4 linked regions of the Homo sapiens genome follow. The protein of the gene in region 1 interacts with the protein of each later gene in a pairwise test. Each region holds a gene or a part of one and is shown in the gene's direction. Other genes may lie near its edges.

Region 1 (7,024 bases):
GCCTTGGCTGTCTCTACTTTGCCGGTCACAGTCACAGCCGTAAGTGCTGCCCCCTGATAGCTCCAGGCAAGTCCTGGCCCCTGAGCCAGGCATGCCTCTTCCTGCCAGCTGGCCCTACTATGCAGCCTGTCGGGCAGGAGTCCTGGGAGCCCCTGTGGCCTTCAGAGTATAACTTTCCCTTCCTACTGGGCTTGGTGGGATCCCTTCCACGGGGCCTCTTCAGGCTGCCTAGAACCATGGTGTGAGTGAGCCCTGGCTCTGGCTGCTGGGCCTCACCTGCTGTTCCACATTTCCTCAGATGCCCACTGATGCCCAGACCGCCCCCAGGCTGTTCCACCTTGGACATGGCTCCAGGCCTCTCACGCTAGGATTCTACCAGGTGCCATGTCTGCAACCTGGCCCTGGCTCCAGAGGCCCACCCCAGCTTTGTCCCAGGGAAGGATCGCAAGGTTCCCACCATGCCATGTCTGGAGTAAGCGGAGCGAGCTGGCCTGTGGCCTGTTGTTGTTCTGACATCTACCCTGGGGGCCCTCCCTGCTGAACCTCTTCATGGACTGGGAATGGCCACATCCAAGGTAGAGGGGCCCTCCTCCCTGCACTGCCAGTCAGCAACTCATGGAGATTCCTCTCCACCTCACACCCCTGCTGTTTTTTTTTGTTTGTTTGTTTGTTTTTGAGATAGAGTCTCGCTCTGTCACCCAGGCTGGAGTGCAGTGGTGCCATCTCGGCTCACTGCAGCCTCCACCCCCTGGGTTCAAGCAATTCTTCTGCCTCAGCCTCCTGAGTAGCTGGGACTACAGGCGTGCGCCACCACGCCTGGCTAATTTTTGTATTTTTAGTAGAGACAGAGTTTCACCATGTTGGCCAGGATGGTCTGGATCTCCTGACCTCGTGATCCGCCCACCTTGGTCTCCCAAGGTGCTGGAATTACAGGCGTGAGCCACCATGCCCAGCCACACCCCTGCTTCTATCACCTTCTCTTACTCTTGCCATGGACTAACCAGGTTTTCTTTTATTCTCCAAAGATCTAGTGCAAACCACTCTCTGATAATAAAGATAGCAAACACTTACTGAACTCTGACCATGTAAAGCATGTTCTGGGCATCTTACCTGTTGGCTCCATGTCATCCTCACAAAACTCTTTGAAATATGAAATGTGGTTATCTTTGTTTTACACGTGAGTCAACTGAGCACAGAACTAAGGGAGTTGCCCAGTCATACCACAAGTGAGTGACAGAGCCAGGGGCACTGATTATAGCCCATGCTCCTTACCACTCACTTACCTGGAACCACCATTCCAGGCTTCTGGGCACTTGAGCTCCCAACTGCTTGCCCAGTTCTGGCCCTTACACTTCTAGAATCTTCTTGACATTTGTCTCCTTATCTGGTCCTAATCCCCACATCTTCTCTCCTGGTCCTGGCTGTCTTGTCTTCCGTTGCCTTTAGCCTGGTGGTGGCAAGGAGAGAGCTAACCAACGACTGCACATTTGCCTCGGGTCGTCTGCAAAGTGCATAATCCGTGTGCATGTAGTTGAGAGCTGGCTGAAAATCCAAGTCGGGACTTCCTTTAAGACCCACTTTCTGGGTCCTCTCCCACCTTTCAGGCCCATCCTGCTGTGTCAGCTCTGCTCTGTAGCCACCACTCCTGACCCCAGCCACAACTAAAAGAGGCATCTGGACCTACCTTCCCTCCCTGCCTCTGCAGCCAGGTCCCCTGGAGTCTCTCCACTCATGTTGACAGCTGGCTCCTGCTTCAGCAAATGCTGCAGGGTGTTTGATTGTCAGCTTCCCGAACCAGGCCCAGTGCTGGGGACCCCGCAGGGTCACCTTCTGAGGATGGGTTTGTGGCCTCTGAAGAGCCTCTTGACAGTCTTAGCCTCCCCTCACTCAGCCCACATCAAGCAGCTGGGTTATAAAGAAGGGGAACTTGCTATTTAGAAGGGAATCAGCGAGAGCTGTCAGCAGGACATAAATATTCATAGAGGGAGGTTAGAACTTGAGTCCCTAAAACCTTGATTTGTGTTCGACCGTTTAAGCCTCATTAAAAAGTGGCAAATGAAAGTGGGAATATTCAGTGGAACTGCAGATAAATTGGGCTTGTTCAGATAAAGGCCCCCGACTGCCAGCTCCGCAGGCTCTGCCCAGAGCATGATAGCAGATTGGCTTGGCCACTTGTGGTTTGCCAACCTCAAAATTTTAAGATTTTGCTTAGCATGAGTTCCTGGCCTTGCTCTGGGGGCAATTACCACTTGTTTGGGCACTTGGTAGCCTTCCAGAGGTGTTCAGGGATGGAATTCCGCAATCTGCTCCCTCCCCAGAATGACACGCAAACCAAGGCCTGGCTCAAGGACTGTTAAGGAGAAATCTCACCTAGGACTAAGACTTGCACTGGGCAATCTGCAAAGCGTACAATTTATGTGCATGTCTAGTTGCTTCTCCTCCTCCTAGCTTTTTCTAGCTTCTATGGACAAGAAGAACGGAGGTTTCAGGCTCCAGTTGCTACGTGAGACCTAAACCGTCTGTCCTTGCCCCTCAGTCCCACCCAAGCTCAACTCCACTCATTGTGGCTAAAAATACAAAGACTGCAGCAGGCTAGGCCTTGGTGGGCACAAAGAGGAGACAGATGGTCACTGTTCCTTCTAGGACAGGAGCTTTAGACTCGGGCCTCTGCCGGGACCAGGCAGTTCACATATATAAGTGGAATGGGCCAATCTGTGGGCTAGACCTGACCTACGGGCTGCCAGTTGGCACCATTTAGAGACCCCTAGAGTTTGGGAAGATAAAGTTTGGACACAAACAGAAGGGCAACAAAGAATATACTCAGCCTCATGAAGGAAGGACTGGTTAATTTCCCAGGAGAAGGAGGGTGGAATGCACCCCGTCCCCTGCCCCCCAACCCCCACCCCCCTGCCACAGCCAAGGGCAGCAGGGAAGCCTGGTGGAGGAGGTAGGGCATCAAGAATTAAGCTTTATTTGTGCTCTTGAGTGGAATCTGAGTCTCAGGGTACTGAGGGGCTGGGCTGTGTGCTGGGGGTGCTGCTGTAAAGGGGAGGCCACATGGTGGCCTGAGGCACTGGGCATGGGGCTGCCGCTCTTCCCTGAATCTGGCTTCCCAGTGTTCATTTCCATGCTGCACAGGTTCTAGGTAGGCCTTTGGCCTCCCCAGGGACAGCCCCATCTCCTGGCTGGGTCTGTTTCCCAGGACAGCCCTCCTTTTGGGTGCCCAGTAGCAGAGAAACGACACAATTAACCAGGCAATTAACTCAAGGCTCTGTGGTCGCTCTCTCCCACAGGGCCCTGCTTATGGGGCTGGAGGTGGCCATGGTGGGGCTGCAGGGCAGGGGGTGGATGGTGTGTCATTGCCAGGCCTCCCTCGGGAAGAAGGAAAAGTGGCTGACATGGAAGTGGCTGAGATGGGTGTTGGCCGTGGAGAGAGACAGAAGGCCCAGAGACTTGGAATGCAACTCTCCTGACACTCAGCCCCAGAATGCCTGCTACCCTCTAACCAGCCATTGTGGGAGGCAGGGATCTTACCTGCAGTCATTGATTACTAACCCTGCAGGGGCTAACTCCAGAAGCGAATGGGGCAGAGAACTGGCTGAGACTGATAAGGAGAGGGGTGCCCCACCCTGACTTCTCAGAAAGTCATTCCATTTGGGGGACCCCCATTCTTCCATTCGTGAAATGGAGGTCTTATTTGCCATGTCTCCTAGGGAAGTGGTGAGAATGAGTGAAGTCAGAGATGGGAAATGGAGCATTATGGGGCTCCGAGGTACTATTCAGTCAGCTGCTGGGAGGGTCACAGAGCCCCCTGAACCCTTCCACCCACTGACACCCAGGCTCGCCCCAGCCAGAGAGGTGGCCAGCTAAACACCTGGAGACTGAGTCAGACACAGGGAGATGGACTTTCAATGCCAAAACCCAGGTTTGGACAACCCAGTCCAGTATGTTATTAAACATTTCTCCACAACTCAAGTATTTCCCCAAGAACACTTCTCTGAAACTCTAATCAAACAAATGGAAAAAACAGATACCTTAACTATTTTGCTACCTTGATGGTAGGTAAAGTTTTTGCTTAAGAACCAAGTCAGAGAGGAAGAAAGGTGTTTTTGAGCATTTTTCTCAGTAATTTTTGATTCTCACAGAAAAATGTATATTTTTACAACTTGGACTACTAAGTTATTAAGATGAAGTATGTCAATGAGAAAAACACCTCTGTGTTGCCCCTAGATGTCTAATCACCCGGCCCCACACGTGTGGAGTGTTTGGAAGCCAGTTTCTTCACAGCATCTCCGCCACTCTAGGATACGCCCGTGGGGCAGGTGCATGCCGTGTTCAGGGTTCTGGTTGCTCCTGTTGTGCGCCCAACTGGGGCATCGTGCTGGGGAGACAACAGACCAAGGGGCTGCTCCTCTCCACCCCCAACCTGTGCTTGGCCCAGAGGGCTGGGACAGCTGTGAGACCCTGGGCAACACCCACTACTGTTTACAGTGTGGCTCAGGCCACTGTCCTGTGCAGTTCAGAGCTGAACCACGTGGAGGCAGAGGACAGCAAAACAAAGACACTCCAGGGAAGACAGGCCTGGGTGCCCTGCCCTGCCAAAACGAATGGGGGGAACACCTGTCCAAGAAGACTCCCGGAGGCCCTGCTTCCCAGTCCCAGTGTTTTGAGAGCTAGAAGCCTCGGCAGCCCACCTCTCTGTGGCCTTTGTTTCAGATCGATGGGCTAGAGGAGAAGCTGTCCCAGTGTCGGAGAGACCTGGAGGCCGTGAACTCCAGACTCCACAGCCGGGAGCTGAGCCCAGAGGCCAGGTAATGCTCCTGCCCAGCCACCCCACCCTTCCCCATCAGGCCCCCACCCCCTGTATCTATCCTGGGTCCCCCAAAGTAGGCCTGAGGCAGAGGGTTTGGGTCCCTGACATCTTAGCTTCAGTGCACACCCCCCCTGCCGCCGAACAAGACCCAAGCCCTGCCAACTGGCATGCCAGCTGCCCCTCGGGTGGGGAAAAGGAAAAGGGTTTGGTCCATGAAGCTCCTTTCCCCTCACAGGAGGTCCCTGGAGAAGGAGAAAAACAGCCTAATGAACAAAGCCTCCAACTACGGTAAGAAAGTTCCTTTCAGTTACCAGCCCCAGCCTCCAGTCCCCAGAACCAGGAAGGGTCAGAAGCCCAAGGGGCCTGACAAGGCAGCAGGGAGCAAGGGGGTTCTTTGGGAGGGAACCAGCCCCCAGAGGCTGCAGACACCCCTGCTAGGTCCAGCAGCCTGCGGGAGAGCAGGTTTGTTGCTTTGTTCTAAGGGAGGATGAGACCGCCTGTGGGTCTGTCTGCTCTTTGGGATGAAGGGATGTGGCCGTGGCCAGGTCTAGGAGACAATCATTCACCTAGACATCGGAAGTCTGCTCTCCCCACGCCCCAGCCCACCCCACCCCAACCCACCACACCCTCCCAGGAAAACCATGCAGTGGGAAGTGAGGGGTGAAGGAAGCCGAACCTCCCACTTGGGTACGGCAAGGGCTCCTGTGGGTGGAGCGATGCCGCCACCTTCTGGGCGCTGGGGGCAGAGGCAGGTAGAGGCCAGGCCCGGCGGGGCGCCAGAGGGCGGCTGGCAGGCTGGTGGGCTCCCTGCTAAAGGCTGGGGAGGACCACGGTCTATAGGTGCTCCTCAGACTTGTCGGTTCTGTTCTCCCCTGGGGGACCAGGCCTGGCCATGAATCAGCCCCAGGAAGGTTCTAATGGCAAGGAGTCCCCCAGAAGCGCTGGTCTGATGAATGCCGTAGGCACAGTGCACACCTACCAGCCCTGCCTGGAGTTCAGCATGTCTGGGCCGGTGCACCCTGGGCCCTGGACTCAGTCTGGCCTGCCCAGAGCAGCTCTGCAGGTGTCTCTTCCCACTGCCCAGCACAGACAGGGATGGGACATTAGTTTCCCTTCAAGTTTAGCGGTTTTCACACAAAACCACACCACCACTCAATTTAGCCCTCACAGAGTACCCCCTACCTGCGTGTCACCTGGAGGGGATACTTTGATACAAGTGTGGCCATAGAGCAGCAGGACTGATTTCCTCTAGAGTCAAGACCAGCTGCCTCATGGACACAAACTGCATCTTAGCGTCCCTAGATTCTGCTCAACCAGGCACCCGGCAGAGGGCAGGGACTCAGGAAACACGTGGCCCCACCTAGCACCTCCTCCACTGTCAGGCCCAAGGAGGCCCCAGGTGCCCTCAGTTTCTGGTTGGCGGATGAGATGCCTTGAAGGATGAGCACCACAGCCAACCCCATGACAGGCAAGCAGACTCACCTGGCGGTCACACCACCTCCTAGCTTGGCTTTCAGGTGTGGCATTTTTGGTGACTCCTCACCCACCTCACCCTCAACCTCAACCACATTTAAAGAGCCATAGTTGAGCAGCACTGGGCGTTGGGACTTTATCAGGCTGGCTCTATAGCCAAAAGGGTGTCAGGATTTGGGCAGATTAAGAAGGGCAGAGTCATTTTTATGGGTAAGGAGGTGGCTGGAAGGGTGCGTCTTTGCCCTCAGCAGTGTGTACCCACTCGTTGGAGAGGCAGAGCAGAACAGACGGGCCTAAACTGCCTGTCCTATCCCTATCACCCTCTTTCCTCCCAGAGAAGGAACTGAAGTTTCTTCGGCAAGAGAACCGGAAGAACATGCTGCTCTCTGTGGCCATCTTTATCCTCCTGACGCTCGTCTATGCCTACTGGACCATGTGAGCCTGGCACTTCCCCACAACCAGCACAGGCTTCCACTTGGCCCCTTGATCAGGATCAAGCAGGCACTTCAAGCCTCAATAGGACCAAGGTGCTGGGGTGTTCCCCTCCCAACCTAGTGTTCAAGCATGGCTTCCTGGCGGCCCAGGCCTTGCCTCCCTGGCCTGCTGGGGGGTTCCGGGTCTCCAGAAGGACATGGTGCTGGTCCCTCCCTTAGCCCAAGGGAGAGGCAATAAAGAACACAAAGCTGTTCCCGTCTGCTGAGTAAATGTCATGGTCTGACTAGCGGAGGGTGGACGGTG
Region 2 (7,024 bases), on another chromosome or scaffold:
TCTGTACCCCAGTACCCATTGTATTTGTTCACCTCTCCTCACTTAGATCCTTTCCTAGTGAGCATATTATTCCAGACATTGGAATCAGGGATTAGATTTGTGTGATAAGGACAAGGCAGGAGTCAGAGATCAAGTGTTAAGGCACCAGTCTAGGTCAGCAGTCAAGATCTTATAAAAGTTTAACGCTTCATCCCCCTTAGTGGAGTACTGAACCCCACTTATTTGGGGTTTGGTATGGCCCCATTCATGAATTTTGGTTCAGTTTGGTACGGCTCCATTCATGAATCAATGAATGTGGAAATAAACTCTTGAAATTTTATTGTTCCTAAGTTTATCTTTTAAAAATATGTTACCAAATTGCTCCTCAGAAAGGATTAAAAAAGAGAAAACACAGTTTCTACTCCTACCAACAGTACGTTGGAGTGCCTTTTTCACTGAGAAAATCAAGAGTCATCGGTTTTTCATCTCCTTCACATTATAGGGGAACCTGCTTTCTGCTTTGAGTTTCTGGGGTTTTTTTTGTTTTGTTTTGTTTTTATTACTAGGAAGATTAACTTTTTTTCCTTGCGCATTTTTGTTTCTCTCAGCAGTTGTCCATTGATTACTGTTGTGTTTTTTCTATTGGGGCAGGTGTGTTTTCTTAATGAATTTTTAAAAAGAAATTTTAAGTGTTTGTCGTAGCTACTGTTTCTCTGTAGTACAATTGACACTTGAACAACGCAGGGTTTAGGAGCACTGAACCCTGCCTTGCCAGCACAGACAGAAATCCACATATAACTTTTGACTTCCAAAAAACTTAATTACTAATAGCCTCCTGTTGACTAGAAGCCTTACTGATAACATGAATAGTCAGTTACCACATATTTTTTATGTTATATGTATAATTTATTGTATTCTTAAAGTTAGAGGAAAGGAAATGTTAAGAAAGTCATAAGGGGCGGAGCACGGTGGCTCACGCCTGTAGTCCCAGCACTTTGGGAGGCTGAGGTGGGCAGATCACTTGAGGTCAAAAGTTCAAGACCAGCCTGGCCAACATGGCGAAACCCTGTCTCTACTAAAAATACAGAAATTAGCTGGGTGTGGTGGTGGGCACCTGCAATACCAGCTACTTGGGAGGCTGAGGCAGGAGAATCACTTGAACCTGGGAGACAGAGGTTGCAGTGAGCTGAGATCATGCCACTGCACTCCAGCCTGGGCGACAGAGCAAGACTCTTGTCTAAAAAAAAAAAAATTAAAAAGAAGAAAAAAATACATTGACTATTTATTAAGTGGAAGTGGATCATCATAAAAGTCTCCATCCTCATCTTCTTCCCATTGAGTAGGCTGAGGAGAAAGAGGAAGAGGGGTTGGTCTTACTGTCTCAGGAAGGTTTCAGAGGCAGAAGAGGTGGAAATGGAGGCTGGGGAGGCAGAGGAGGCAGGAGAGGAAGGCACACGTGTAACTTTCATTAAAAACAAATTTGTGTGTAAGTAGAACTGTGCAGTTCAAACGTGTGTTGTTCAAGGATCAGTTGTATAATATTGCAAGTATTTTCTTTCCATTTGTTATATTTTCAACTTTTTGTGCTTTTTAAATATAAACATTTAAAATGTTTGAATTCAGGCTGGGTGTGGTGGCTCACACCTGTAATCCTAGCACTTGGGAAGATCGCTTGAGCCTAGGAGTTTGAGATCAGCCTGGGCAATATAGTGAGACCCCATCCGTACAAAAATGTTTTAAAAAATTAGCCAGAAGTAGTGGCATGTGCCTGTAGTCCGAGCTACTTGGGGGGCTGAGGCAGGAGGATCGCTTGAGCCCAAGAGGTGGAGGCTGCAGTAAGCCCAGGTTGCCCCACTGCAGCCTAGCCTGGGTGACAAAGTGAAACCCTGTCTCAATCAATCAATCAATCAATCAATCAATAAGACTAAATAAAAATTTTAAATTCAAATATATTACTGTTTCAGTGTAATGTTTAGAAAGTTCATCAGCATTACAAGATTACATTCACATATACTTTTTTCTTGTAGTTTTATATTTTCATTTTTAACATTAAAAACTGTTAATCTATTGCAATCTATTTAGCTTATAGGGAGCAGCCTTCATCCTGAGTACAGGACACAAGGTCTGTGAAGCTATGATGCTCAGTAAATCTCTGGGCCTTATAGCAGATTCTAACCCTTACACATTCTCATCTACAGATTTTGAGCTCCTGTTATTTATAACATAGCATCTAGGTGATGAAATAGTGCATGTAAAATATAATGATCGAATATGCAAGAGTTGAAATATGATTTTTAAGATTTTTAATGAGAATCAGGAAAGAGGATTTTAGAAGGGGTGTAATTTTACCTGGGTCTTGAAGAAATTCATGCAACAAATTTTGCATACAAATTTTGGCAACAAAATTCTTTGTTTATATGAAAATATACATGTTATATAACTTCTTATATATTATGCATACATAACTAACAAAAATGTTTTTACTGTTATTTAACCAAAAAGAAAGATATAATAAGTACCATATGCCTGCCAGGTTTTATAAATATTAATCTTTAGTCATCATATTTCAATTTTATTTTAATAAGTAGGTAACAAATCCTTGAAACTTCCTGCCCCCTATTCATCTCCCACCATTCTTCCACAGAGTTAACCTTTAATTGGAACTGATTTCTTGTCCATCTGTGTTTTTTCAGCATCACAAATACAACCTATCAAAGCTTTACTTCAAATTTATTAGTAAATTGTTTGCTGTGGCCAAGTCTAAAATAAGATACAGTACACAATGTTTCTAGTGGTCTGTTTTGTCCTCTTTGCTATGAACTTTTTCACTGAGGGAATACTTAGCTCCCTAATACCATCATTCTTGGCCTAAATAAATATAACTGTAAATCTAGACCATTTATAGAAATTGCTGAGTTCTTAATTTTCCAATTAAGCTGTATGTACAGATTAGCAAGGATTATCTATTGTGCTGTATGCTGAACTGGAATATTTTACATCTCTTTTTATCCCCCTAGTTCTTCTTGATTATGCATAGTAAGAATTTTAGAATTTTAATATAGAAAAGGACCTAGAGACATTCTTATTTTACCCCCTTATATTTTAGAGATGAAAAAATGGACACTAAGAATTTGACTTGATCAGGGCTTAAAAGCAGGCTATAAACCCAAGCTTGGCCTTCTCACTATTTATTCATACTCAGTAAATTTAGATAATGATTTTGCTGTAATATGGGGTTCTAGATCTGAATTGAAATGTCAGAAAATAGTGTACTGCAATAAAATCACACTGTTTTTTCGATACATTTTTTTCTTTCTATCAATTTGTCGTATAGTGATTTTTTAAAATTCTCACATATGTATCATAAAACCTTGTTCTAAAGTCTTTTTTTGTATATGTATTTGTTACTTTTAGAATTTATGTTTATGTTAAAATTTAGAATTTGCTTCATGTAGTTTTAAATACTGTAGATAATAGAGTTCCGATGTGTCAAACTTTGATTTTAGTGTTTTTAGCGAAATGTTTTCTTTGACTTGCATAATATTTTTGAAGTTAGAAACAGCTTTTATGGGCCAGGCATGATGGCTCGCACCTGTAATCCCTGCACTTTGGGTGGCCGTGGTGGATGGATCAGTTGAGGTCAGGAGTTCGAGATGAGCCTGGCCAACATAGTGAAACCCTGTCTCTACTAAAAATACAAAAAATTAGCCAGGCATGGTGGCAGACTCCTGTAATCCCAGCTACTTGGGAGGCTGAGGCAGGAGAATTGCTTGCACCCAGGAGGCAGAGGTTGCAGTGAGTGGAGATCTCGCCACTGCACACTCCAGCCTGGGTGACAGAATGAGACTCCGTCTCTAAAAAAAAAGGAATAGCTTTTATCTAATTATCATATTGAAAGTATTGTCTTCCTTAGTTAAAAGATGAGGAAGTTTAGACTTGTAGGTGTTCAAATGATTGTGATAATGTCATTCAGGAAAGATTCAGAATTTAAATGTTTTCTAAGTTCAATCCTCCCTAATGCCATGATGCTTATATTTCTGATTTTTTTTTTTTTTAAATAGAGACAGGATCTCACCATATTGCCCAGGTTGGTCTCAAACTCCTGGGCTCAAACAGTCCTCCTGTCTTGGCCTCCCAAAGTACTGGGATTACAGGCATAAGCCATTGTGCCTGACCAGTATTTCTGATATATTAATTTGTATATCCGTTATATAAAAAGGAATTCTGAGATAAGATATTCTCATATTCTCACTTAGGAGATCTATTATATACATTGTGTTGACTTGAACAATATTAATTATTAGCTTCTGGAGTATGGAAGTCTTCACTTGTTTCGGCAGATAGCTAAAGTGATGTAAAACAGACCTTTGGATCCCTTAATCTCTACCTTTGATTTTTTTTTGTTTTTACTAAGAATTATTTCAGTTTTTTCTTTTGTAATGGAGATTTTATTTGTCGTGTTGAGAATAAGTATACAGACATTTCAAATTGTACACAATTCTTAACATACATACCAAAAATCTAGAAAACCTCTATTGTAATTCCTTTTTCTGAAACGGTCTCTCTCTATTGCCTAGGCTGGAGTGCAGAGGAGTGATCACGGCTCACTGCAGCCTTGACTGCCCGGGCTCAACCGATCCTCCCACTTCAGCCTCCCAAGTAACTGGGAGGTGCATGCCACGATGCCTGGCTAATTTTTTTTTTTAATTTGTAGAGACAAGGTCTCACCATGTTGACCAGGCATGTCTCAATCTCCTGGGCTCAAGTAATTCTCCCACCTTGGCCACCCAAAGTGCTGTGATTATAGGTGTGAACCACTGCACCCGGCCTCTTTTTTAAATAGTTATTATAGTGACATTCCAACTTAACATTTGGAGGCAAATTTTTCTTAAGAGGATTATCAAGAGCCAGTATCTACAAGTGTTTGATAAGCTGTACACGTTCTACCAATTCACAGTTTAATAGCATGTACACTATATACCCAAATTTTCAATCTTTCACAGCACATTAACACAGTTATTAGGAAATCAGGACTTCTGTGACCAAAGATGTTATAGTGTACACAGTTCTGACAGGGAGAGCCATGATCAAGGAGTGGTTTTCTTTAGGAAACAATTCTGTGAAAAAAAAAAAAAAACATGGCAATAGAAGTAATTTAAAATGTTCAAGACATTAAATGCAGGATTCTGACTCTGTATTGCCATTTAGTATATTTTGTATTACAGTATATAAAAACTAAGCCCCCATCTGTGGAATGTTAAGCTGACATCCAAGACAGTCAAAACTTCCTGTAATTCAATATCCCATACTATTCTCTGGTTTCACCAAAAAATAAACAACCAGAGAATTATTTCACCTCAGAAAAAACTTAACAATGGAATGAGGTGGGAGTTCCTGCTACTTAAAATGTTTCTAGAGCTACTAAAAGACTTGCACTTACAAAGCAGTTGATAAAAATACCCTGGATTGTACAAGAAGGGAGACAGGGACTACTGATAAGACATGGTATATGATATTAATCAGACTTGGCTTCTTTCTCTCCTGCTTCATCAAAGGTTGGAGTCTCCTCGGTTTTAGTTTCTTCGTTTTCTGCAGGTAAATCTTATTTAGTTTCTTGGTTAGCCACTTTGGCCTGTTTTCCCTATGCTCCCCTTTTCCCATTTGTTTGCATTTTTTTTTTTTTTTTAATCTGAAGATTTAGCCTTTCCTGATGCCTCTTTGGCTTCATTTCCACTTTTGCAGGAGCAGGTTTAGCTGACAAGTGCGCAGATCTCCTCTTGGGCTCTTGCTTCGCCACCCCTTCGGCTGAACTGACCTTCCTCTTGGGCATCTTGGCGGCAGGAGGGGCACTTGCTGGGCACCTGTGGGCCACGGAGCTGAGAGCCTTCGCGAAGCTGGGCTGCCTGGCTACTGGCACTCCTCCCGCTGCCCGAGCTGCTGAGACCCCTATTTCAGTTTTGAAAGTCTTTCTGTTAATTAGTACCTTGAAACCATGAGCATGTAAGCTTTTTCAGAAAACTTCAGCCAATTTGATATATATGGATATAATTACATTCTTTAATATGAACTATTTTGATGTGAAGATTTATATAAATTAGCTTCATTATAGTACTTTCTCAATCTAAAGTTATGTATTTTAATTTTACTTAGTATTTACTCAGCAAATGGGGTTCAGAAAATGTTTGTTGTTTCTTTCAGTAAAGAAGCCTACTGTGTGCCCAACACATTTGATACAGGCACTACAGAGCTGATAAAGAGAAGTTCTGGTAGAGGAGCCTGTATAAAAAGTAGCCGGGGATGGTTGTGAAGGGCTGAAGGAGTACTCGGCATGGAAGGAATCCTCGGCATGGCAGGCTTCCTGGGAGTGGCAGAAGTGGGGGCTGCCAAATTGAGACTTGATTCTCTATAAGGATTTTAAGCAGAAAAATGCTATGGTTAATTTTTTTTTTTTTTTTTAAACAGCCTCATGCTGTCAACCCAGGCTAGACTGCAGTGGCATGATCCCAGCTCATTGAAACCTTATTTAATTTTCATTATATCCCTTTAGAGTAGCTATTGTTATTATCCTATTTCATTCATGAAATTCTGAAAAGTAATGTGCCATATAGCTTAGAAATGGCAAATCTGGCACTTGAACTCAGGTCTCTAACACCAAATTTGTGGCTACATTTCAGAGTACCCATAATACCTCTTATGTTACTTATTACTAGTATAACATACTGTAAATCTTATAATACTACAGAGTCCTTTGTATCTCAGCCTTTCTAGTAATCAAAGACCCAGGGATGACTATAATATTAGGAGTAAGCGGCTCACTTTCAACTTCTGGAAAGGTTACATCATTAATTATTTGATAATACAGTTTGAGTATCTCTTTTTTTTGTTTTGTTTTGTTTTGTTTTGTTTGAGACGAAGTCTCCCTCTGTCGCCCAGGCTGGAGTGCAATGGCACGATCTCAGCTCACGGCAACCTCCACCTCCTGGGTTCAAGTGATTCTCCTGTCTCAGCCTTCTGAGTAGCTGGGATTGCAGGTGGGCGCCACCAA
Region 3 (7,700 bases), on another chromosome or scaffold:
TTCATCATCTGAAAATGGAAAAAATAATACCTGACTAGAAAGTGAAAGTAAAAAAGAGATATAATGGACAATGTGCCTCGCACAGGGCCTGGCATGGAGAAGTCCTTGATGTACGTCTTTTCCTTCCCTTTTATGCAGCCGTTTCCCTCACACCCACCCATTGATTGATTTTTCTGAAGAGACTACTTTTGTCATGTCACCCTCTAATCCCCAGACTTTAAACTGGGAGGTAGCAGAGTGGTCTGATTAAGACCTTAGACAAGGGTTTCTTGTCTGGGCGCAGTGGCTCACGCCTGTAATCCCAGCATTTTGGGAGGCCAAGGTGGGCAGATCACTTGAGGTCAGGAGTTCGTGACCAGCCTGGCCAACGTGGTGAAACCCCATCTCCACTAAAAATACAAAAATTAGCCAGATGTGGTAGCAGGCTCCTGTAATCCCAGCTACTCGGGAAGCTGAGGTGGAAGAATAGCTTGAACCCAGGAGGCGGACCTCAGCACTTCTGCCTGGGTGATGGGAGTAAATCCTGTCTAAAAACAAACAAACAAAAAAAAAAAACTTAGACAATGGTTTCTCAGCTTTTTTTAATCACTCCCCAACAAGTCCTTTTAGATATTATATTCTTTTGTGTGTGGCGGGGTACATAGCGTGTGTATATGTTTGTAGGTTACATGAAATGCTTTGATACAGGCATGTAACGTGTGATAATCACATCAGAGGAAATGGGGTATGCATCACCTCAAGCATTTATCCTTTGTGTTACACACAATCCAATCATACTCTTTTAGTTATTTGTAAAGGTAAATTAAATTTTTTTTACTATAGTGCCCCTGTTGTGCTTGTAAATACTAGGTCTTATTTATTCTAAGTATTTTTTGTGCCTATTAACCACATTATATATATATATATATATATATATATATATATATATATATATATAATTTTTTTTTTTTTTTGAGATGGAGTCTCGCTCTTTCGCCCAGGCTGGAGTGCAGTGGCGCTATCTCGGCTCACTGCAACCTCCACCTTCCGGTTTCAAGCGATTCTCCTGCCTCAGCCTCCCAAGTAGTTGGGATTACAGGCACCCGCCACCACGCCTGGCTAATTTTTATATTTTTAGTAGAGACAGGGTTTCACCATTTTGGCCAGGCTGGTCTTGAACCCCTGATCTCGTGATCCACCCACGTTGGCCTCCCAAAGTGCTGGAATTACAGGCGTGAGCCACCATGCCTGGCCCACATTACATTCTTACTCACCTCCCCCTACCATGGAATTTTATTCCACAGATATGCTATTGGTTTAGCTACTATATGTATATCTGTGTTTTATACATAAAGCACAAGAACCTTCCAGAACCAATTTTCGCCACCTTGGAAGTAATACCACCTCTACTAAGAATGCACAGCATAGACCATAAAACCTCAATGCTAAGTTCAAATATTGGCCCTACCACACATGAGCTGTGTGGTCTTGTACAAGTTACATAACTTCTCCTCCTTGTCTCAAACTCCTCACATATAAGATGAGGATAATAATAGTACCTGCGGCCACACACAGTGGCTTAAACGTGTAATCCCAGCACTTTGGGAGGCTGCGGCAGAAGGATCACTCAAACTCAGGAGTTCAAGAGCAGCCTGGGTACATGGCGAAACTCTGTCTCTACAAAAAATACAAAAATTAGCTGGGTGTGGTGATGTGTGCCTGTAGTTCCAGCTACTTGGGAGGCTGAGGTGAGAGGATCGTTCGAGCCCAGGAGATCAAGGATGCAGTGAGCTATGATCATGTGGCTGCACTCCAGCCTGGATAACAGAGCCAGACCCTGTCTGAAAGAAACAAAAACAAAAACATTAGCACCTGCATCATAGGGTCACTGGGGGCACTACATGAGTTCATGTACATCGAGGACTTAGGACATTGCCTCAGGCAGACCTAGTGCTGCACAACTGCTTATGTAATTATTCCCAAATTTCTCCAGGGCCCACAGAAGAACATGGAAGTATCTTGGTTTGGCAATTAAGGTGAATCACATTCTCACTCTCCTTTTCTGCATCTCTACCCCACATTCCCACAAAGCTTTATTCACACCAAGTCTCCAGTCCTTGCCTGCATTGTGTGATGGGTGCCTGCAGTGATGGGTGGGGACACCCATCACTGTCCAGGGTGTCCCCACCATCCTCACAGCCTCTCTGTCTGGCCTCCTGCCTTTGAGCCAGCCCACCACACTCTCATTTCTCTGCCCAGCAGAAACCAAACTGTCCTCTGCATTTACTGTCTCAACTGGAAGAGAAATGCAGAATGACAAAGAACTTGTGAACAAGGGTCAGCTCCAACAGAGAGTGAAGCCAAAGGGGCTGGGCAGAAAGAGAGATGAAGACGGGGATCTAAGGAATAAGGCTGTACCAGAGTGAGAGTACGGGGGAGGGGTTGAACAAGAGTTCAGGGAGGAGAGAATTCCCAGCGCTGAGCCAGAGACTCCTTTACAGAGGCCCAAGGAGGCGTGGAGGGAGGGGGAAGGCTGCCAAGGCTCTTTCTGTCTCCATGAGTGTGTCAAGAATGCAAAGCACTAATGCTCTTCACTTGGTCCATCTTGCAGGGTTGAGTTTGCAGTGAGCAACCTTGAAGGATGAGCTGACATCTCGCTCAGGGCCAAATAACCGACTTGCTTACTGCTTGCTATAAAATGGCACGTTACCCAAGGTCAGAGTTCCCTTCCTATAACCTCCCCATCCCTCACACATTCACAGGTATCTATCCAAGCCATGGCATCACTCTGTGGGGCTTGGGGGCAAGGCAACTGACACTGGACGCTGGTTCTCATGCTTGCCAAGCATGAAGCCCTGTGCTGCTAGCAGCTGTGGAACATAGCCGTTAGCTTTAAAAGAGGGTAAAATCACGTCCTGGACAGGACAGCCAGGTGAGTTGGGAAGGGAAGAGAGCCTGCCACGGGCACAGGCATGTTGGGGGAAGTGGAAGTGGTGAGAGCACAGTAGGAAGTGAGAAGGGGCGGGCCGTGCTTACCAGGCCGTGGACTTAAACCAGGATGAGAGAACCCCTGGAGGCGTTTAAGTTGGCAGACTTGGATTTCAGGAAGAGCTCTCTGGCTTCTGGGTGGAGAATGGCCAGTGGGGTAAGTGGTGAGAGGAAAGACAGAGAACGGAGAAGGTTAGATGGGCTTGGGAAATTATCCAGGCCCTGGATGGAGGTAGAGATGTGTGCTCATGAACACGGAGGGGATTACTGATGTGGGGTGGATGAGACTGTCGTCAAGAGTGTGGGACAGGAAGAGAGGGAGAGTCTTGGCCAGATCCAAGAAAGGAGCCCTCAGAAGAGGAGGGGAGTCAGAGGCAAGGAAGGGGCTGAGGCAGCCAGCCCAGCTGAGTGGACCCCAGGAGAGGTATCAAGGGGTGGTGTGGGGTGGGGAGGGGCCAGTGTCAGAAAGTGGATGGGGAGCGGCCTGACTCTGCTTTTGTCCTGTGGCCTTCTGGCCAAAGGCAGGGAAAGGTGGCCAAACACTGAGACCAAGAACAAAGAAAGAAAACTGCTGGTGGACTTCTTCCACCATGAGCAGGCCACCAAGCCCGCAGCACTGCACTGCAGCCCCCAGCTCTGTCCTGGGGTTGGGGGAGGTGAGGAGGGGCAAGGTGGGGAGCACACAGAGCACCCGCTGTCCTCGGAACACCACAGCGACTAGAGGTAAGGGAGCACCGGATGTGGCTGGGATGTGGGCAGCAAGGGGCCAGAGGGGCCTTGAAGGGGTCACAGACCATTTAATGAAGGTGTATTGAAGGCCACCATGGGCCAGGCCCTAGTTAGGGATGGATCAGAATTATATAGCATATGCCAGGGGTCAGGCAGGTAATGAAGTGATCGGAAGGTGATGAGGCAGTGGCAGTTGAGATTCACGTTGCAGTCGCCCCAAGCTGGCCAGGCCAGGGAGCAGAAGCATGGCTGGATGCCGGAGCCCACCAGGCTCCCCACTGCAGGGCAAGAGTGGCAGGGGGAGAGACTGTGAAAGGAGCATAGGCCAGGTCCTGGGTGAAAGCTGTGTCCTCAGCCTTGACTGATGGGTATAGGGAGCCACTAAATGCCTTGGGGCAGAGAGGTGAGGAAAAAAATATTTACCGAGCATCTACAAGGTGCAAGGTACTCACTAGATGCCTTCAGTACCAAAGCTTCTCAAACTTAGTATGCATATCACTCTTCTAAGAATTTCATTAAAATGCAGATTCTAATTCAGCAGATATAGGGCAGGGCTTGAGGTGCTGTCTTTAATAAGCTCCCAGTGCCTGGGACTGCACTTTGAGGAGAAGAGCTGTGTGTGCCCCAGTGTGGTCCAGTGAGTACTCTGGGCTCCCTCTCGTGGGCAGGGAAGCTGAGGGCCCCATGAGCTCTCCCAGCTTCCTGAAGGCTCCCCATTAATGAGAGCTGACTGTGCTGTGCTTTGCTGACTGCAGGGCCTGCTCCCTGCCCCCCACCTCCAGGTTGGGGTAAGTGGCACCTCTCTCCCTCCAGCTCCGCAGTCTTCCCTGAGGTTTAGATCTTCCAGGTTTATAAAGTCAGGCCCTCCTGTTGGCAGCTGGCCTCCACCCTGGAGTATCTGAGCTTGCCTGTGGCAGCATCTAAAGATAGTCTCCCTTACAGGAAACAAGATACTATTGGCTAACTCTGCAAATAAAATGCTCTTAGAGGGAAGGAAAGGGAAATACTCGTCTCTGGTAAAGTCTGAGCAGGACAGGGTGGCTGACTGGCAGATCCAGAGGTTCCCTTGGCAGTCCACGCCAGGTAGGTGCACAGGACTAGTTGGGTACCTGTGGGTGGGGTGGAGCAGTGGACAGCTAATAGGTTAATAATGCCTGTTTGCTTACGTGCAGACAATGGAAACCATTTTCCTGGGGATGTTGTAGCCTAAATATGTCCAAGGGGATGGAAGAGTGGGAGGCAAGGGGTGATCAGATCATTTATAATACACTCAACCTGGTGGAATAGTATTAGAAGCATTAGTAATTACATTTTAGAGACATGGAGAAAAGCTCATGATTTTAAACTAACTGAAAAAAGCATGAAAAATTGCATCTGGATGCTGTTGAGGAATTATTGCTAATTTTTTGAGATGAGAAATTGTATTAAAGTCTTTTTCAAAAAAGAGTCCTTAACTTTTAGAGATGCACACAAGTGTTTATGGGTGAAATTAAATAATTCAGTAGAGACATTAAGTGGGAAATAGAGGAAATATTGACCATGGGTTGCTAATAGTTGAAGCCAGGTGTTGGGTATAAGGAGGTTCTCGCTGCTTTTATTTGAAAAGTTGCTTTTTATTTGAAAATTTAATAATAAAGAGTTTTTAAATTTGTATCTGTATTTTAATATAAATATAAATGCACTTAATATAAATATAAAATATGTATAACATTTAGATAGAGAAAAGCTAAAAGATTACTGTGGTTGATTCTAGGAAACTGCATTGCAGATAGTTTCATGGGTTTTTTTTTCCTTTTTCTTCCACTTTTTGTACCATCTATGGGTTTTTGTTTGTTTTTTGTTTTTTGGGTTTTCTTTCTTGTTTGTGTTTTGTTTTTTGAGACGGAGTTTTGCTCTTGTTGCCTAAGCTGGAGTGCAATGGCACAGTCTCGGCTCACTGCAACCTCTGCCTCCTGGGTTCAAGTGATTCTCCTGCCTCAGCCTCCCAAGTAGCTGGGATTATAGGCATGTACCACCGCCCGGCTAATTTTGTATTTTTAGTAGAGGCGGGGTTTCTCCATTAATAAATTCCTGGCACAAATTTAGTGTTCAATTTTGATATATGTTGTTATAACCATTGTGAGGATACTCAGGCTCAGGTTTGTGTGGGTGGAAAACATGGTCTTCAGAAAGAAATTATGAGTGCAAGACAGGAGGAAATCCATCAGAGGCCCCAGCTGAGGACTGACCACGGCTTGTTATTTCTCTTGCCTTGCCTCTGGCAATCACAGCCTCACAGAGCCTGCAATCCTTGCTTTGTGAGTTTATAGCTCAGTCCAGAGAATGGCTAAGAAAGTTTAGGATTCTTTCAACACCCACTCCACAAAAAAAAAAAAAAAAAAGAAAAGAAAAAAAAATTAATTTTTGAAATACTTGAGGTAGAAAACTTGAGGCAGAAAAAAATTGAGCCAAAAAAAAAGGAAAATTGAACCACGTGAAAGCAGGCAAGAAAGCTTGCATTGCTCAGGGCATCCCAGGCCCAGAGGGCGCTTTGGAGGGAGCTGGGTTTCCTGAGAGGAGGCAGGGTGGGTGACGGACCTGTGCTGGAGAGCCTTGAGGACCACTGTGGGTTGGGAATGGGGGCAGTGGATTGGGGTTCAAAACCCCTGGGAATGAGAAATGGGCTCAGGAAGGCTAGGGTGGATTCTTTCATCTTCCTCTTTGCTTGGCTTTATTTTCACAAAGGAAGGCAGGGCAGGAAATAGTCTCAGCCCAACTTCAGTGTGGTTCTTCTTAGTGCTCAGGCTTACCTGGCACTTGCCACACCTCTGGGATGGGAGCACCTACTATCCATCAGCCACGTGCCAGTCTCCACAAAGTCTGCTCCTGAACCCTGCTCCTCAGCTGGCCCCACTTCACAGATGGGGACATAGGCAGCTTGGCTTTGGAATGAAGGAATGAAGTCAGGAATGAAGTCCTGGCTCTGCACTTGGTGACTGTGCACTGGGCTTGCTAAGTCTGTTTCCTGCTTTTAAAATGGAGATTGTCCATCAGCCTTTGAAGCCATGTAATGGGTATGTGTCAACTTTCTGCAAGGATTAAAGGCATGGTATAGGAAGTCCCAAACACACTGCCTGACCCATCTTTGATGCTCAAGAAACGATATATGTTGTTGTCATGAGGAAACTGAGCCTCAGAAAGTTTGGATACCTGAAAAACACTGACTACTATTGAATGAGGTTGTGAAGAATCCAGAGCTGTAGGGGCAGGAAAGCAAAGAACGTATTAGAGCTGACCCAGTCAGGACGATCGTCTATCCCCTTCCTCACCCCACCCCATCCCAGGAGGAAGCCTGCCCGGCCCTAGGCAGCTATGGCACAGTGGCAATGTCAGGTATGGTTCTCCCTAGCCAGAGACCCTAGCCTCAAAAAACCTCCTTCTTGGGATCCAGGCATCCAACTGCTCCTCCCCAGCCCCAGCCTCTGACCCAGTATCCTGAGTCCAGAGACGTTTGGAACCAGCACCTGTAATGGAGGAGCTGAACAAGGAGGGGAACTTCTGCTGCTCCACAGCAGGTCACGGTCATAGGAGGGAGTGGAACCAGAATGGCAGAATCCAGATCTTGGCTGCCTTTCCCAAGGACTTGTTCTGATTCCTAGCAGCACAGCCCAGGCATTCCGAGAAGTTGGGCTCTCTGGCATCACTCACTCTGCCCAGAAGAGCCAGGGGAAAGTTGGGGCTTCTAGCTGAACCTTGATCCCACCTGCCCTCTTGAGGGGCTCAGAATCTGCTGGCTGCTTCACAGGTGGGATTCTCACGGCACGCTGGCCACAGCTGATGCTTCGACCCCCTCATCTTGTTTGGCCAAAGTGCAGCTTTTTAGCTTGTGAGTAAGGAAGAAAAGCTGTATCATATGTCTTTAAACATCTTCCTAGACCACCTTTGTTTTCCCCTTAAAGTGTGCTTAAGGAGAAAATGGAAAGTCTCTTTTCAGTGTGTTGTATTTTGTTTATTGCAAAATACAA
Region 4 (7,024 bases), on another chromosome or scaffold:
TTTTTAGTAGAGACGGGGTTTCACCATGTTGGCCAGGCTGGTCTCAAACTCCTGACCTCAGGTGTCCTACCTGCCTTGGCCTCCTAAAATGCTGGGATTACAGGAGTGAGCCACCATGCCCGGCCAAAAAAATAAGTTTTTAAAGAATTAAAGGTCATCCTGGCTAACACAGTGAAACCCCGTCTCTACTAAAAAACACAAAAAAATTAGCCGGGCGTGGTGGCGGGCGCCTGTAGTCCCAGCTGCGCGGGAGGCTGAGGCAGGAGAATGGCGTGAACCCGGGAGGCGGAGCTTGCAGTGAGCCGAGATCGCGCCACTGCACTCCAGCCTGGGCGACAGAGCGAGACTCCGTCTCAAAAAAAAAAAAAAAAAAAAAAAAAAAAAGAATTAAAGGTGTTAATTTTATTTAGAAGCCTTACTGAAGACTACAGTCGGAGGCCTATAGCCTGAGAGCAGCCCTTTAGAGAGGTTCAGTTGAACTGTTCTGATAGTGGGGGCCATGTGCTCTATCCTGTATTGTCTTCAAAGCATCTTTCCAGAGAGCTGCACATTGTCACAGAGTCAGGGACTTTGTGAAATTATGCTGACAACCAGAAGTGAGTAAACGTGGCTTCTTACATTTGCTACGTTGTCTCACAGTACTTAATAAGTATGCAATATGTAAGTAAATACTATAGTACTATTGCAACTCCTGATTGTTTTCTTAGACAAGGAATTGGGCCCAATAAAAACCCTCTTGGTAGGCATTCAGGCTTCGTGTACCATGAGCTTTCCTAAGGGTATCCTGCCACTCTTGGGGAAGGCATGATAGATGAGGGGAGTAAGGATAATGGAACTCTGGGTACAGGGTTCCTGGGGGCTAACTTAGAGGTAGACACAGGCAATGCTAAATATTTGGGATTGATTTTATAGAGGTTGCTAGATTGTGAATTTCCTTAGTAAGGGCTAAGGCATTGATATGTAATGTCACACTTGGCTCCGAGGCTGGGTTGTTGGATCCATGTAGATGAAATCAGGGAGAGAAAGGGCAGAACGGAGTAATTTAGAAATGTATTGATTTGTATTACTCTCTGTTGGCTTGCTATTCAAGGCAGTGGAGAACTCAATCACATAATAATCTGCAGCAAACCACAGATCATCCCAGGGAATGAAGTTTTAACATTCGCTGGCTCCCTAACTCCTCACCCAGCCTTTACATTCACTGGCTGTTCAGTCCATGCCTGGACATCTTAATTTGAATACAACATTTTAAATCCATTTTTCTGTCATCATCTTGCACTAACAGACAATTCTACACTAAGCCTATGTTTATGAATATTTCTCAAGAGTACATGTACACAGCCTTCAGTATAAGGAAAACTGGAAGTATGACATACCTCCAGTTGTCATACTCCTTGGGCCCCTCTTAAATTCTCATTAAACTGCAGGATAGGCAAGTCAGAGGTGAATCTCAAATACGAAATTCTTACCGGAAAGGGGTTCCAATCCAGACCCCAAGAGAGGGTTCTTAGATTTCTCGCAAGAAATAATTCGGGGCAAGGCCACAGTGCAAAGCAAAAGCAAGTTTATTAGGAAAGTAAAGGAGTAGAGAACAGCTACTCCATGGAGAAGAATGGCTTGAGCTGCTCCACCAAGGGTATTTAGAGTTACTTCTTGATTATATGCTAAACAAGGGGTGGATTATTCATGAGTTTTCCGGGAAAAGGGTGAGCAATTCCCAGAACTGAGATTTCCTCCCCTTTTTAGGCCATATAGGGTAACTTCCTGCCATTGCCATGGTATTTGTAAACTGTCATAGTGCTGGTGGAAGTGTCTCTTAGCTTGCTAATGTATTATAGTTAGCTTATAATGAGCAGTGAGGACAACCAGAGGTCACTTTCATCACCATCTTGGTTTTGGTGGGTTTTGGCCGGCTTCTTTACTGCACCCTATTTTATCAACAAGGTCTTTATGACCTGAATCTTGTGCCAACCTCCTATCTCATCCTGTGACAAAGAATGCCTTAACTTCCTGGGAATGCAGCCCAGTAGGTGTCAGCCTTATTTTACCCAGACCCTATTCAAGATGGAGTTGCTCTGATTTAAACGCCTCTGACAAAATGACGACCTCAAAACAATCCAGCTTTATGGAATACCTCCACAAGAAAGAAAGTATACTTAGCTATAGAATTTTCTCCTTGCATCCAACAGGCTTTGAGATGTCAGATGTTTCCTTCCTGTCCCATGATTAATCCTAGCCATTCCTCTTTCTTGTCTGGCTCCACTACTCCTTACCATCTAATGCCTCGCCACCATTTTGATATTTTGACTAAGTGAGCTATGAAACACACCTACTGGATATGAAAGTATAAGTTTCTGATAACAAAACATCAACATGGGATGTGGAGGAAGTGGGTAGGGTGGCATTAATGCAGCAAATCCTGGAATATTTTAAATCTTCATTCTAAATTTAGTAAAAATATAGGATAATTTTCCTGCCATCATTTACTTATAAAATTAAAATTTTAGAAAATAAAAATAATATTTTCCTCTTTTTAATCACAGATTATGGCCTGTATTGGAGACAGATGAAGTCGTAAGAAGTCTGATAGATGGAATACTTACCAATAAGAAAATGATTTTTGTTCCATCGTATATCAATATCTTTCTGAGACTACAGAAGTAAGTACAGCACAGAACACCCAAATACTAAAACACCAATAGAGCTTTTTTTTTTGCTTTTTTTTTTTTTAGACAGAGTCTCACTCTGTCACCCTGGCTGGATTGCGGTGGTTGCAGTGGCATGATCTTGGCTCACTGCAACCTCCGCCTCCTGGGTTCAAGCAATTCTCATGCCTCAGACCCCCAAGTAACTGGGATTATAGGTGTGTGCTGCCACACTACACCCAGCTAATTTTTGTATTTTTTGATAGAGACAGGTTTCCCCATGTTGGCCAGGCTGGACTCGAACTCCTGACCTCAAGTTATCCTCCTGTCTCGGCCTCCCAAAGTGCTGGGATTACAGTCATGAGCCACCATGCCTGGCCCAATAGAGCTATTATTATGGAGCATCTTTCAGTTGTGAAAATTGGCATGGAAACTCTCCATCCCTGGGGAGAACAGTTATTTCCTCTGTTATTTTCCTACCCAGTCTATAAAAAGAGAGTGATTCATTTTCTCTACCAAATCTACTGTCTCTGCCCAAACTTTGCTGAAGACTATTCTAACTAAAGGAAACACAGTTTAAAAAGAATGCAATATAGTGAAGTAGTTAATAATAAAGACTCCATTTTTAAAAGTCTGCTGGAAGTTTGGTTGGGATTGCACTGAATCTATAGAGCAATTGGGGAGTATTGACATATCAACAATATTGAGTTTTCTAATCCAAGAACATAATATCTATTTTTAAAATCTTCTTCAAAATCTTTAAATCTTTAAATTGTATTTTGTAGTTTTTGGTGTTTAAGTCTTGCACATATTTTGTCAGATTTATTCCAAAGTATTTCACGGGTTCTTTTTTTTTTTTTTTTTTTTTTTTTTGAGACAGAGTTTCACCCTTGTTGCCCAGGCTGGAGTGCAGTGGCGTGATCTTGGCTCACTGCAGCTTCTGCCTCCTGGCTTCAAGTGATTCTCCTGCCTCAGCCTCCCAAGTAGCTGGGATTACAGGCACCTGCCCCCTCGCCCAACTAACTTTTTGTGTTTGTAGTAGAGACAGGGTTTCACCATGTTGGCCAGGCTGGTCTCGAACTCCTGACCTCATGTGATCCACCTGCCTCAGCCTCCCAAAGTGCTGGGATTACAGGCATGAGCCATCATGCCCAGCCCTATTTGACGGTTTTTGACGCTAATGCAAGTGGCATTTTAAAAAATTTTATATTTCCCATTGTTTGTTGTCAGTATATATTGGATTTTTGTAATTTGATCTCATATTTTGCAGTCTTGCTAAATTGCTAAACCTCTTTTTGCTAAACTCGATAAGCTTTTTTTTTTTTGGTAGATTCCTGGGCCTCTAATTTTCTTTATGGGAAAGTTTTTAATTACAAATTTAATTTCTTTAATAGCTACATGGCTATTCAATTTACTTATTAATTCTTGGTAATGTGTGTCTTTCAAGGAATTTGTCCATTTCATCTAAGTTGTAGAATTTCTTTGGCATAAATTTGTACATAACATTCCCTTATTATCCTTTTAATGTCTTTAGAATGTCTTATTTATTTATTTATTTATTTTTATTATATTTTTTTGAGACAGAGTCTCGCTCTGTTGCCCAGGCTGGAGTGCAGTGGCACAATCTTGGCTCACTGCAAGCTCCGCCTTCTGGGTTCATGCCATTCTCCTGCCTCAGCCTCCCTAGTTGCTGGGACTACAGGCGCCTGCAACCATGCCCAGCTTATTTTTTTTTTTTTTTTTTTTTTTTTTTTTTTTTTTTTTTTTTTTTTAGTAGAGACGGGGTTTCACCCTGTTAGCCAGGATGGTCTCGATCTCCTGACCTGGTGATCCGCCCGCCTCAGCCTCCCAAAGTGCTGGGATTACAGGCGTGAGCCACCAAGCCCAGCCTATTTATTTATTTAGTAGAGACAGTCTCACTTTGCTGCCCAGGCAACAAAGGTTTTGAATGCCTGGCCTCAAGCAGTCCTCCTGCCTTGGCCTCCCAAAGTGCTGGGATTACAGGCATGAGCCACTGCACCTGGCCAAATGAATATGCTGATAATATCTTCTTTATAAGGATGACATAAGAATAAAATAATGTAATACAAACAAAGCCCCTGTCACTGAAAATGTATAGACTTCAAATGTTAAAGTCTTAGAGAACAGAATTTATATGAAATAGCAACAGCAACAATTTCCCAGAGGAAATACTCTCTCAGCTTTCTTCTGAGGAGCAGTTTCTAAATTGAAATTGTATCAGTGAGAAGATAACTATACTAACTTCATAAGCCTTGGGCCTTTTTGAAACAAATCCATATAAACTATGAACAAACTTGAAATAGAACAATTTGAGAACAGGGTACAAACTGCATTGGTGTATCAATTTCAGTATTTGGTTTTAGCTTAAATAGACTGACTTGAGATAACATAAGGAGAACCTTGACCCCCAAGCAACATCATCTCGCGAGTTGACTAGGCCGGGTGTGGTGTCTCACGCCTGTAATTCCAGCACTTTGGGAGGCCACAGCAGGCAGATCACTTGAGGTCAGGCATTCGAGACCAGCCTGGCCAACATGGTGAAACCTCAGCTCTACTAAAGATACGAAAATTAGCAGGCATAGTGGCCTGCACCTGTAATACCAGGCACTCGCAGGAGAATCCCTTGAACCCGGAAGGCGGAGATTGCAGTAAACCATGATTGTGCCACTGCACTCCAGCCTGGGCAACAGGAGACTCTGTCTCGGAAAAATAAATTTTTTAAAAAAATGAAAAAAAATAAAAGTTGACTAAATTAGTGTCTTGGTACTAAGCACTGTAGGAAGTGAGTTTCATGGAACCCCAACTCTCTTGGGGCCCAAAGCAAGTCATATTAATATTGAAAATTACATGCATATACATGCATATGACCAAGGTGATAAAAACAATTATTCTGCCTGAGTTGGAGAATAGTATCCCAGTAAAATAAACAAGAGTCTCAAAGTCTTTTGTATCCTTTGAAGCTGTCATGGTGGTTTGTAACTAGGCAACAGGTATATATTGTTAATCTTCTTTGCATTTAATTCCTTTTATAGAGAGACACAATTTTACGAGCAGATGCAATTACTAGCATGAAGGTTTCTTTGTGAGGGTAGTTAAAAGGCCCACATGAGCTCTCTTCTTATCCTTGTCCTTCTTTCAGCCAGATCTTCCCTGCCCCTTTGCTCATTCCATCTTTCACCCACCTACCCCCAAAACAAGGAAGTAAATCTTGCATTAGTCAACAATACCAAAGTGATTTTCAATATGACTTTCTCTGCAGAATGTTATTATTTCTGCCTCTTTACATTCACATACTGTCTTCCTTTTTTTTTTTTTTTTTTTTTTTTTTTTTAGATTGGGTCTCACTCTGTTGCCCAGGCTGGAGTGCAGTGGCTTGATCTCAGCTCACTGTAACCTCCACCTCCTGAGTTCAAGCAATTCTCCTGCCTCAGCCTCCTGAGTAGCTGGGATTACAGGCATGTGCCACCACACCTGGCTAGTTTTTTTGTATTTTTAGTAGAGACAGGGTTTCACCATGTTGGTCAAGCTGGTCTCGAACTCCTGACCTCATGATCTGACCACCTGTGCCTCTCAAAGTGCTGGGATTACAGGCGTGAGCCACCGGGCCAGCCACTCTCTTCCTTTCAGTTGCCTACTCATCTCTTATGCATTCCTGGACATCAGTTGTCCTTTTGAAGCTTTCCTCCACTATCCCAGCCCATGTGAATCCTCCTTCCAGTTATAGCCCTTAATTCTAGATGGCTGATATTTTTCAATAATTGTTTTAAGATGACCATTTTAGCCTATCAGCTAAACAATATCAAAGACAATAGCTATTTTTCAAGTACTTTAGTTTACCTTATTATAGAGTGCATAATAGATATTCAGTAAATAGTAAAGGAGAGGTGAAGGCTTGCATAGAATGGATTCTGGTGGTGTCTCTTGGTGAGCTTTTAGCATCAAGATTAATCAGCAGTTTCAGCAATGAGCTCAGACCTTCAGTTTTAGATCTTTACTCATATCAGATAAGAGAGTGAGAAGAGTGGTATGTATCAGTGCTTTATTTATATTTGCATCCAATTTGAACTATGAATATTACAAAGGTGCACACATAGGTTCAGACAGATTGATTTAAAATGACCAAAGATGACCTGTCGTAAGCAACCTGGGTATCTTAAGATGCACTCCTTGGAGAGGGAATGTTCCTAAAAACATTTTCAGAGGGACGAACTGTATGAAATTCAGTAAAACATAAATCATGAGGAAAACTGATTACTCTCTTTTTGACATGAAATGAGAGTTTTAATGCATGGTTACGATTATTAACGTACTCCGCTGCAAGACGTTAATAAAGTTACTGTTTTGCAGGCTAGAATGTC

The links.
Region 2: the proteins of CCDC167 (region 1) and ARL13B interact in binary tests that used the Homo sapiens proteins (3 or more experiments, as listed by UniProt).
Region 3: the proteins of CCDC167 (region 1) and CX3CR1 interact in binary tests that used the Homo sapiens proteins (3 or more experiments, as listed by UniProt).
Region 4: the proteins of CCDC167 (region 1) and HSD17B13 interact in binary tests that used the Homo sapiens proteins (3 or more experiments, as listed by UniProt).

Annotation. Positions count from the first base shown.
Region 1 is NC_000006.12:37,482,887-37,489,910, reverse strand, and holds the end of CCDC167 (coiled-coil domain-containing protein 167), read left to right. Parts: intron 1-4,716; coding exon 4,717-4,811; intron 4,812-5,048; coding exon 5,049-5,101; intron 5,102-6,621; coding exon 6,622-6,725; 3' UTR 6,726-6,973; downstream 6,974-7,024.
Region 2 is NC_000003.12:93,983,138-93,990,161, forward strand, and holds part of ARL13B (ADP-ribosylation factor-like protein 13B), read left to right. Parts: intron 1-4,808; exon of another isoform or gene 4,809-5,925; intron 5,926-7,024. UniProt on the Homo sapiens protein: Cilium-specific protein required to control the microtubule-based, ciliary axoneme structure. May act by maintaining the association between IFT subcomplexes A and B. Binds GTP but is not able to hydrolyze fit; the GTPase activity remains unclear.
Region 3 is NC_000003.12:39,277,033-39,284,732, reverse strand, and holds the start of CX3CR1 (CX3C chemokine receptor 1), read left to right. Parts: upstream 1-4,696; 5' UTR 4,697-4,779; intron 4,780-7,700. UniProt on the Homo sapiens protein: Receptor for the C-X3-C chemokine fractalkine (CX3CL1) present on many early leukocyte cells; CX3CR1-CX3CL1 signaling exerts distinct functions in different tissue compartments, such as immune response, inflammation, cell adhesion and chemotaxis.
Region 4 is NC_000004.12:87,305,879-87,312,902, reverse strand, and holds part of HSD17B13 (17-beta-hydroxysteroid dehydrogenase 13 isoform A precursor), read left to right. Parts: intron 1-2,543; coding exon 2,544-2,660; intron 2,661-7,024. UniProt on the Homo sapiens protein: Plays a pivotal role in hepatic lipid metabolism. In vitro, it catalyzes the oxidation of a variety of lipid substrates, including 17beta-estradiol, retinol, retinal, and leukotriene B4.